Homo sapiens: one gene and its partner. The protein of the gene in region 1 purifies or fractionates together with the protein of each later gene. This does not show direct contact. Each region holds a gene or a part of one and is shown in the gene's direction. Other genes may lie near its edges. The genes, in order: ANGPTL8 and CHRDL2.

Region 1 (3,600 bases):
GGAGAGTGGATTCATGAGGGACCCATGGGGGATGCCCTACCCCCCTTCCCTGGGGCACAGCCACTGACCGGCAGAGCCTGGCTGGGGTCCTCGCCTGTCATGTACTGCACTCGCACAGCAAGGTTGCGCACGGAGCCCTGGCGGCTGCTGAAGTTGAGGCTGTGCGGGTACACGTACAGCAGGTTCCTGTGGGGGGCAGGATGGGGGTGTCAGAGGGACAGGGGCCCTGAAGGTGCACATACAAGGCTGGGGTGATGGGACAAGGCTGGCTGGGAGCACAGACAGTCCAGGAAGAGTAGGTCATGAGGCTGGGGCATTGAGGGCCCGGTGAGAGGTAATACAGGTATCAGTCAGGAGATAGGACAGAGGGCAGAGGGTGGGGGACAAGCGAGCACCCTAAAAACACAGATTGGGAACAGTGTGGTAGAGGGTGGGAATACAGAAGGACATTGGAGGCACTCATGGGGCACAGTGACACACAGAAGGCAGAGAATAGCGAGGCACTCAGGGCCAGAGTTCCAAGGTACCTCAGGTGGCCAGTGGTCAAGCCTAAGCCCCACCCAAGGGCCTGACTGCCCTTCCCCCAGGAGGTCACTAGAGTTATGTGGCCTGTTTCTCAGGTGGGGAAACTGAGGCCAGAGTCCGAGTCCTGCCTCCTTCCCCCAGGGGCAACTCTGTGCAAGCCTTGACCCCTCTCTGGGCCTCAGTTTCCCTATGTGTATAATGGGCACTTCAGGCCTTCCAGCTGAGCCTTTGTAATGATACTGATGATGATAAATAACAACAATGACAATAATTGCACCAAACACTATTACTACAACAATGAAATAATCGCGCCTACTGTGTGCCAGGCTCTGTTCTAAGCACTCAACATGAAATAACTCATTTACTTCTCACAAGTAGCTCATGAGGCAGGACTAACATCACCGCCATTTTACAAGCAGGGAAACTGAGGTACTTGCACAATCACCCACGGAGTAAAATGGCAGTCAGTGGTGATCTGGGCATATGCAGGTCTTGGAGATCAGGCTGTGTGACCTTGGGAGAGTCTCTGCCACCTGCACCTGCCCCCTTGGATACTAACCAGGCCAATAAAAGCCCCCACGTGGCAAGTATGTGGGAGGGGAACAAGAGCAGATATTGTAATGGCAGGTCAAACAGCTCAGGGCAAACCATCAATGCTTATAAAATCTTTACTGTTATTACCATCATCATTGCGATGCCTATTCATAGATGGAGAAACAGGCTCAGCATGGTGAGTCTCAGGAACTCCCAGCAGGGTCTGGGGCCCGTCCTCTCCCAATGCCCCCCACCCACACCTGGCCCTGAGCCCCAGGAAGCGTGATCCCGGCGTGGCCTAGCCGGACATTCGCCTGATGCAACTATCGCACCACTGCCAGGCCCTTGTGCAATGCGGGGCACCAGGTCGGCCAGTTAACGATTGACTGGGGATCAGTGGGGGTATGAGGCATAAAAGGCTTCAGTGACAGTGCTGTGGCTATACCTTAGACCCTCAGTCATGCCAGTGCCTGCTCTGTGCCTGCTCTGGGCCCTGGCAATGGTGACCCGGCCTGCCTCAGCGGCCCCCATGGGCGGCCCAGAACTGGCACAGCATGAGGAGCTGACCCTGCTCTTCCATGGGACCCTGCAGCTGGGCCAGGCCCTCAACGGTGTGTACAGGACCACGGAGGGACGGCTGACAAAGGCCAGGAACAGCCTGGGTCTCTATGGCCGCACAATAGAACTCCTGGGGCAGGAGGTCAGCCGGGGCCGGGATGCAGCCCAGGAACTTCGGGCAAGCCTGTTGGAGACTCAGGTGGGCACCGTAGCTGCGACACTGTGGGGTGGCCAGGAGTCCAAAGAGGAGTTCGTGTCTAGGGTAACCAACCATCCTGGTTTGCCCAGGACTGAAGGGATTCCTGGGATACAAGATTTTCAGCGATAAACTCAGGCAAGTCCTTAGGTACACAAAGATGAGTTGGACATCCTACTAGTGACCCACTGTTTATTAAGCAGATGGAGGAGGATATTCTGCAGCTGCAGGCAGAGGCCACAGCTGAGGTGCTGGGGGAGGTGGCCCAGGCACAGAAGGTGCTACGGGACAGCGTGCAGCGGCTAGAAGTCCAGCTGAGGAGCGCCTGGCTGGGCCCTGCCTACCGAGAATTTGAGGTCTTAAAGGTAAGGAGCTCCCCCAACCCTAGTGGGCTGAGACCCTGATTTCCGGCCAGAACTCGCTTCTGCACCTTGAGTCCCAAAGACCTCCCAGATCAGCCTCCCAGCTCTGTGGCCTCTACCCTGCATGTCCCCAGACAAAACTCAAGTCCTTTTGTGTGCCTCAGTTTCCCTTTTGTGTGCCTCAGTTGCAAATAAGGGCAACACCTGATATCTCACAGTAGGGCCAGGTACTCAATGCAGGTAAAATATTCAGCATGGGGCGGGCACACAGTTGGTGCTCAATAAATTCTTTTTTTTTTTTTTTTTGAGACAGAGTCTCACTGTTGCCCAGGCTGGAGTGCAGTGGTGTGATCTTGGCTCACTGCAACCTCCACCTCCTAGGTTCAAGTGATTCTCCTGCCTCAGCCTCCTGAGTAGCTGGAATTACAGGTGCACCAGCTAATTTTTGTATTTTTTAGTAGAGATGGGATTTCACCATGTTGGCCAGGCTGGTCTCGAACTCCTGACCTCAAGGGATCTGCCTGCCTCGGTTTCCCAAAGTGCTGGGATTACAGGTGTGAGCCACTACACCTGGCCAATAAATTCTTACTACTAGAGAAACTGGTAACATTTTGTGAGCACCCAGTAAGTACCCAGCACTGTTCTATGCCCTTTAATAATCCATATGATGGCCGGGCATGGTGGCTCATGCCTGTAATCCCAGCACTTTGGGTAGCTAAGGTGGGTGGAACACTTAAGGTCAGGAGTTCGAGACCACCCTGGCCAACATGGTGAAACCCCGTCTCTACTAAAAATACAAAAAATTAGCTGGGCGTGGTGGCACATGCCTGTAGTCCCAGCTACTCAGGAGGCTTAGGTAGGAGAATCGCTTGAACCTGGGAGGTGGAGGTTGCAGTGAGCTGAGATCGTGTCATTGCACTCAGCCTGGGTGACAGAGAGAGACTCAAAAAAAAAAAAAAATCCATAGGATGTTCATCACCTCCCCATGAAGTGAGTCCTATTTTATCCCCATTTTACAGATGGGGAAACTGAGGCCAAAGAGCATTGTTGACTTGCTGGGTCACACAGATACAATGAGGGGCTGGGGCAGAGGGTCAGGGGATGGGAGGTGAGGTGGCTGTCGGCTGAGGTTTCCATTCTGACCCCCACAGGCTCACGCTGACAAGCAGAGCCACATCCTATGGGCCCTCACAGGCCACGTGCAGCGGCAGAGGCGGGAGATGGTGGCACAGCAGCATCGGCTGCGACAGATCCAGGAGAGGTGAGCCTGGCAGGGGTTTGGCAGGCAGGGCAGTTGGATGGGGGGCGCACAGGGCAGCTGGAAAGGGGCCCCCTCACCTGGGCTGAGCCACATCTCCCTCCCCAGACTCCACACAGCGGCGCTCCCAGCCTGAATCTGCCTGGATGGAACTGAGGACCAATCAT
Region 2 (4,021 bases), on another chromosome or scaffold:
ATTAGCTGGGCGTGGTGGCACTCACCTGTAGTCCCAGCTACTCGGAGGCTGAGGCAGGAGAATCGCTTGAACCTGGGAGGCGGAGGTTGCAGTGAGCAGAGATTGCGCCACTGCACCACAGCCTGGTGACAGAGCAAGATTCCATCTCAAAAAAAAAAAAAGAATGAAAGAAGCTTCCAGGACTAAGGACCGTCAATTGGCTCCTCTTCCAGAATCTCTCCCTCTTTGTTAACTCTGTTCTTTCATCATTGATTTCGTTCATCAGGCACGAACTCTATGTAGGCTCTACCTTGAGCACAAAATTTAATGAGATCTGGTCCTTGCTCTCAAGAAGGTCCCAGTTTGGTTAGGAAGCAAAGCTTACTTAAGAAGTACCTCTAATCCATTTGTGATGAGAATTGTAATGAGGGCTGAACTCAGTTCTGCAGGAAAGGCCAGTGGCTGGAAGTTTGGGGCAGCTTCACAGAAAGGGTAGCATCTAAGCTGGCTTTTGAAGAATGGGAAGGAGTTGGTCAAACATTGGAGATGGAGGATTCCATTCCAGGTGGAGGAAACAGCATGTTTGAAGGCACAGTAGGAGGAGGCCTGGGGGCTGGTGGAAGAGTGAGGAATTTAGCAAGAGGAGGTGAGGCTGAAAACAGGGCCACCACAAAAAGTTTTGCTGGAAAAGCAGGCAGGAGCCACCTCATGATAGGCTGGGGATGACACAGTGACATTTGGAATCTGTCTGGTAAACATTGCTGTCCTGAAATCAGATTAGATCAACTAAGTCCAGTCACTTTAAGTCTGTTCAGACAGGTAAAGAGATTTGGCTGTGGCCCATCCAAGTGGACACTTCCTGTGGGAAAGGGAGCTAGTGTCTAGCACTTTGGATATGCCAAAGAGAAGCCTCTGTGTCCTTCATGAACCACATCCACTCCCACCTCTGTGCCTTTGCATCTAGCACCCACTGCCTGAGAAGTCCTTCCCCTTCTGCATCTTGTTAATTTCTCCAAGATCCAGCTCAGGCATGTTCCTAGAGAAGCCTCGCCTGAAGACCCTATGCTCACGCCATCATAGCGTTTGTCAGACTGAATGTATTGTATCTATCTGTGTTCTTCACTAGGCTGTGAGCTCCTTCAGGAGGTGACTTTGTTTTAAGTCATGTACCAGGCCCATGAATGTGTATAATATTTGACATACAAAAAGTTCAATAAATAAATGAATAATGGGAAGTAATATTACTGTAGCAGTCCCCCAGTATTCATGGTTTCAATTTCTGAGGTCTCAGTTTCCTGTGATTAACCTTGGTCCAAAATGTTAAATTGGAAATTCCAGAAATAAAGAATTCATACGTTTTAAATTGCACATCATTCTGAGTGGCATGGTGAATTCTGTTGCCATCCCTCTCTGTCCCATCCAGAATGTAAATCACCCCTTTGTCCAGTGTGCCCACGCTGTAGATGCTCCCCGCCCGTTAATCACTTGGTAGCTGTCTCAGTGATCAGATCAACTGTTGCAGTATTGCAAGGCTTGTGTTCAAGGAACCCTTATTTTACTTCATAATGGCACCAAAGCACGAGTAGCAGTGCCAGCAATTTGGATATGCCAAAGAGAAGCCATAAAGTGCTTTCTTTAAGTAAAAAGGTAAAAGTTCTCAATTAATAAGGAAAGGAAAAAAATGGTATAGTGAGTTTGCTAAGATCTACAGTAAGGATGAATCTTCTATTTGTGAAATTGTAAAGAAGGCAAAAGAAATCTATGCATGGTCTATGTAGGGTTCAGTACAAACTGTGGTTTCAGGCATCCACTGGGGGTCTTGGAATGTATCACCCAAGGATGAGGGGGGACTACTGTATTACTAATGATAATAATGTTTACTGCCTGTTATGCCAAGTGCCGCACACTCACGTATGTGTTCAGTCCCGAAACCTCAATCCTGACCTTGATGGCTCCTTTGCCTTCTCCACCCATATCCTATCCAGTCTGTCCCAAAGCCTGCCCATTGTACCTCCTAAGTGTTTCTCAAATCTGTACTTTTGCCCATCAGCACAGCTTCCATCTTGGTCCAGGTCCAGCATGATCTCAAAACAGGATGACTGCAACAGCCCCTCCCTGGTCTCCCTGCCTCCAGTCTTGCCCTCCAATCAGTTCTCCATTCCTGTGAGCACAGTGATGATTCTAAAATGCAAATCTGATCATGGAACTCCCCAGTTTAAAGCTTTTCCATGGCTTTCCTTTGCCTCTCAGGCTCTCAAAGACCTCCGTGAGCCTCTGCTTCTCCTTCCAGACTGGTCTCTTGCCTCTCACTCCTGCCTTCCCATTCTCTCCTCCAACTTCTGAGCCACTTTCATCTCTGTATCCCCGCCCAAGGTCTGTGGGCCTGAGGTGAGTTGAGGCAAACTAATCTGATTTATGAGTGGGGCTAGAAGAATGCAGGAGGCCACCAGAATCATGATTGGTGCAGTAGTAAATGAGACCTGGGAGATTTGGCCTCAGTGTGTGCTATGATGTTCATCCCCTAATAGGTGCCTGGGGATGACCACAGAGAGCTCTGGGAGTCAAAGAAACACCACAGGAAACAAACTATTAAGGAAGTCTGGGGTCAGTGCCCAGATCTGTTTTTTTTTAAACCTATTTAGTTGAGCATATAATATATGTCAGGCACTAGGCATATTACATATATTATCTGACCTAATTCTACAGTAACTCTGAGAGGTAAAGATTGTTATTAGTTCCATTTAATAGATGTGGAAACAGAGGCCCAGAATGGTTAGGTAACTTGTCTAAATTCAGGCTGCAAATAAAAGCCAAATCCACAATTTGAACCCCAGCCGATCTGACTCCAAAGGGTCCCTGAGAAAAGTCATGCTTGGTCTCTGAGATGGGGAGGGATGCATGGGCACAGGTGGGATGAGACTTGGTGGTGGGGTGGGAGAGGAATCAGGGCAGGTCCAAGGCCAGGGCAGAGGTGGGAACGCCACAGAGGACCAAAGGGAGTGTATGGGAAGGGAGTGAGGTATGAGACAAACTCTACCTCCTTCACACTCAGGTGACACACCTGTGTCACTCAGGACTGGTCCTACTGGCTCCCTGAACTTCATCCTAACCCACTTTGGAGCCTCTGAGAGCCTAAGATGTATGAGACCATCAACACATCCAAGAATCATAGAATCTTGGAATGATCGAATCTTAGAACCACAACATTGGACAATTCTAGAAGCTTTGTGTTCTAAGGAAAGACAGGTTCTTAGAAACATGGAATTCTCAAAATCCTGAACCTTAGAATCCTAGAATTTTGGAGTCTTCAAATGTTGAAATCATGGATTCATAAAGTATCTATGCAGAAAATCTTTGAAGATCATAGCTTACCCCCTCCCCTTATTTTGCAGATGGGAAACTGAGGCTCAGAGAAAGGAGGATGAGTCTCTGAATGTCACACAGTGAACTTGTGGCTTAAAGAACTAAAACTGTTTTCACCAGCCATGTTCAAGGGTTGGGGCTAGTGCCAGCACTGCAGGAACTGAGGCGGCCTGTCGCCGTCTGGCAGTTCTTCCTCCTGCTTGGTTCTGGCATGGCCTTGGGCACTCATCTCACTTGAGGAAGAGAGAGCTCCAGGCCATGCCACCCTTCCTTGTGCCTGTCACCTTCTAGGGTATGGTGGGGTGGGGATTGTGGCCACTGGAGGCCTCCTGCCAGGCCCCCCACATTCTCAGCCTCTGCCAGGTCTGTTGGTGGGGGGAAGGGGCCTCCTGCCTGGGCATTGGCTGAGACACTCTTTCTGTCTTCATGCTCTGAGCAGGCGGTGAGGTGAAGGGGGTGCCAACTGGCACAGAGACCTGGGCTACAGGGCTGCCCCAAGGAAGGGAGGACAGGGCTTCTTCAGCAACAGGCTGAGACCTAAGGTGGTGGCAGTGTTGCAATCACCCCCTCCCTGGTGGGAGGAGGGGACTGAGGAAGAAAGACATTATTCACTCCTTGGAGAGTTGGGCTGGCTCTGACCAGCACCCCAGCTGGGCCCGTGTCCCACCCTCTCTGCCAG

The links.
Region 2: the proteins of ANGPTL8 (region 1) and CHRDL2 purify together in Homo sapiens (affinity purification with mass spectrometry; one large-scale study listed by BioGRID and IntAct). This does not show direct contact.

The regions. Positions count from the first base shown.
Region 1 is NC_000019.10:11,238,119-11,241,718, forward strand, and holds the start of ANGPTL8 (angiopoietin-like protein 8 precursor), read left to right. Parts: upstream 1-1,500; 5' UTR 1,501-1,519; coding exon 1,520-1,816; intron 1,817-2,016; coding exon 2,017-2,178; intron 2,179-3,326; coding exon 3,327-3,436; intron 3,437-3,541; coding exon 3,542-3,569; 3' UTR 3,570-3,600. Other genes in the region: DOCK6 (dedicator of cytokinesis protein 6), read right to left, coding at 69-186. UniProt on the Homo sapiens protein: Hormone that acts as a blood lipid regulator by regulating serum triglyceride levels. May be involved in the metabolic transition between fasting and refeeding: required to direct fatty acids to adipose tissue for storage in the fed state.
Region 2 is NC_000011.10:74,721,140-74,725,160, reverse strand, and holds part of CHRDL2 (chordin-like protein 2 isoform 2 precursor), read left to right. Parts: intron 1-4,021. UniProt on the Homo sapiens protein: May inhibit BMPs activity by blocking their interaction with their receptors. Has a negative regulator effect on the cartilage formation/regeneration from immature mesenchymal cells, by preventing or reducing the rate of matrix accumulation.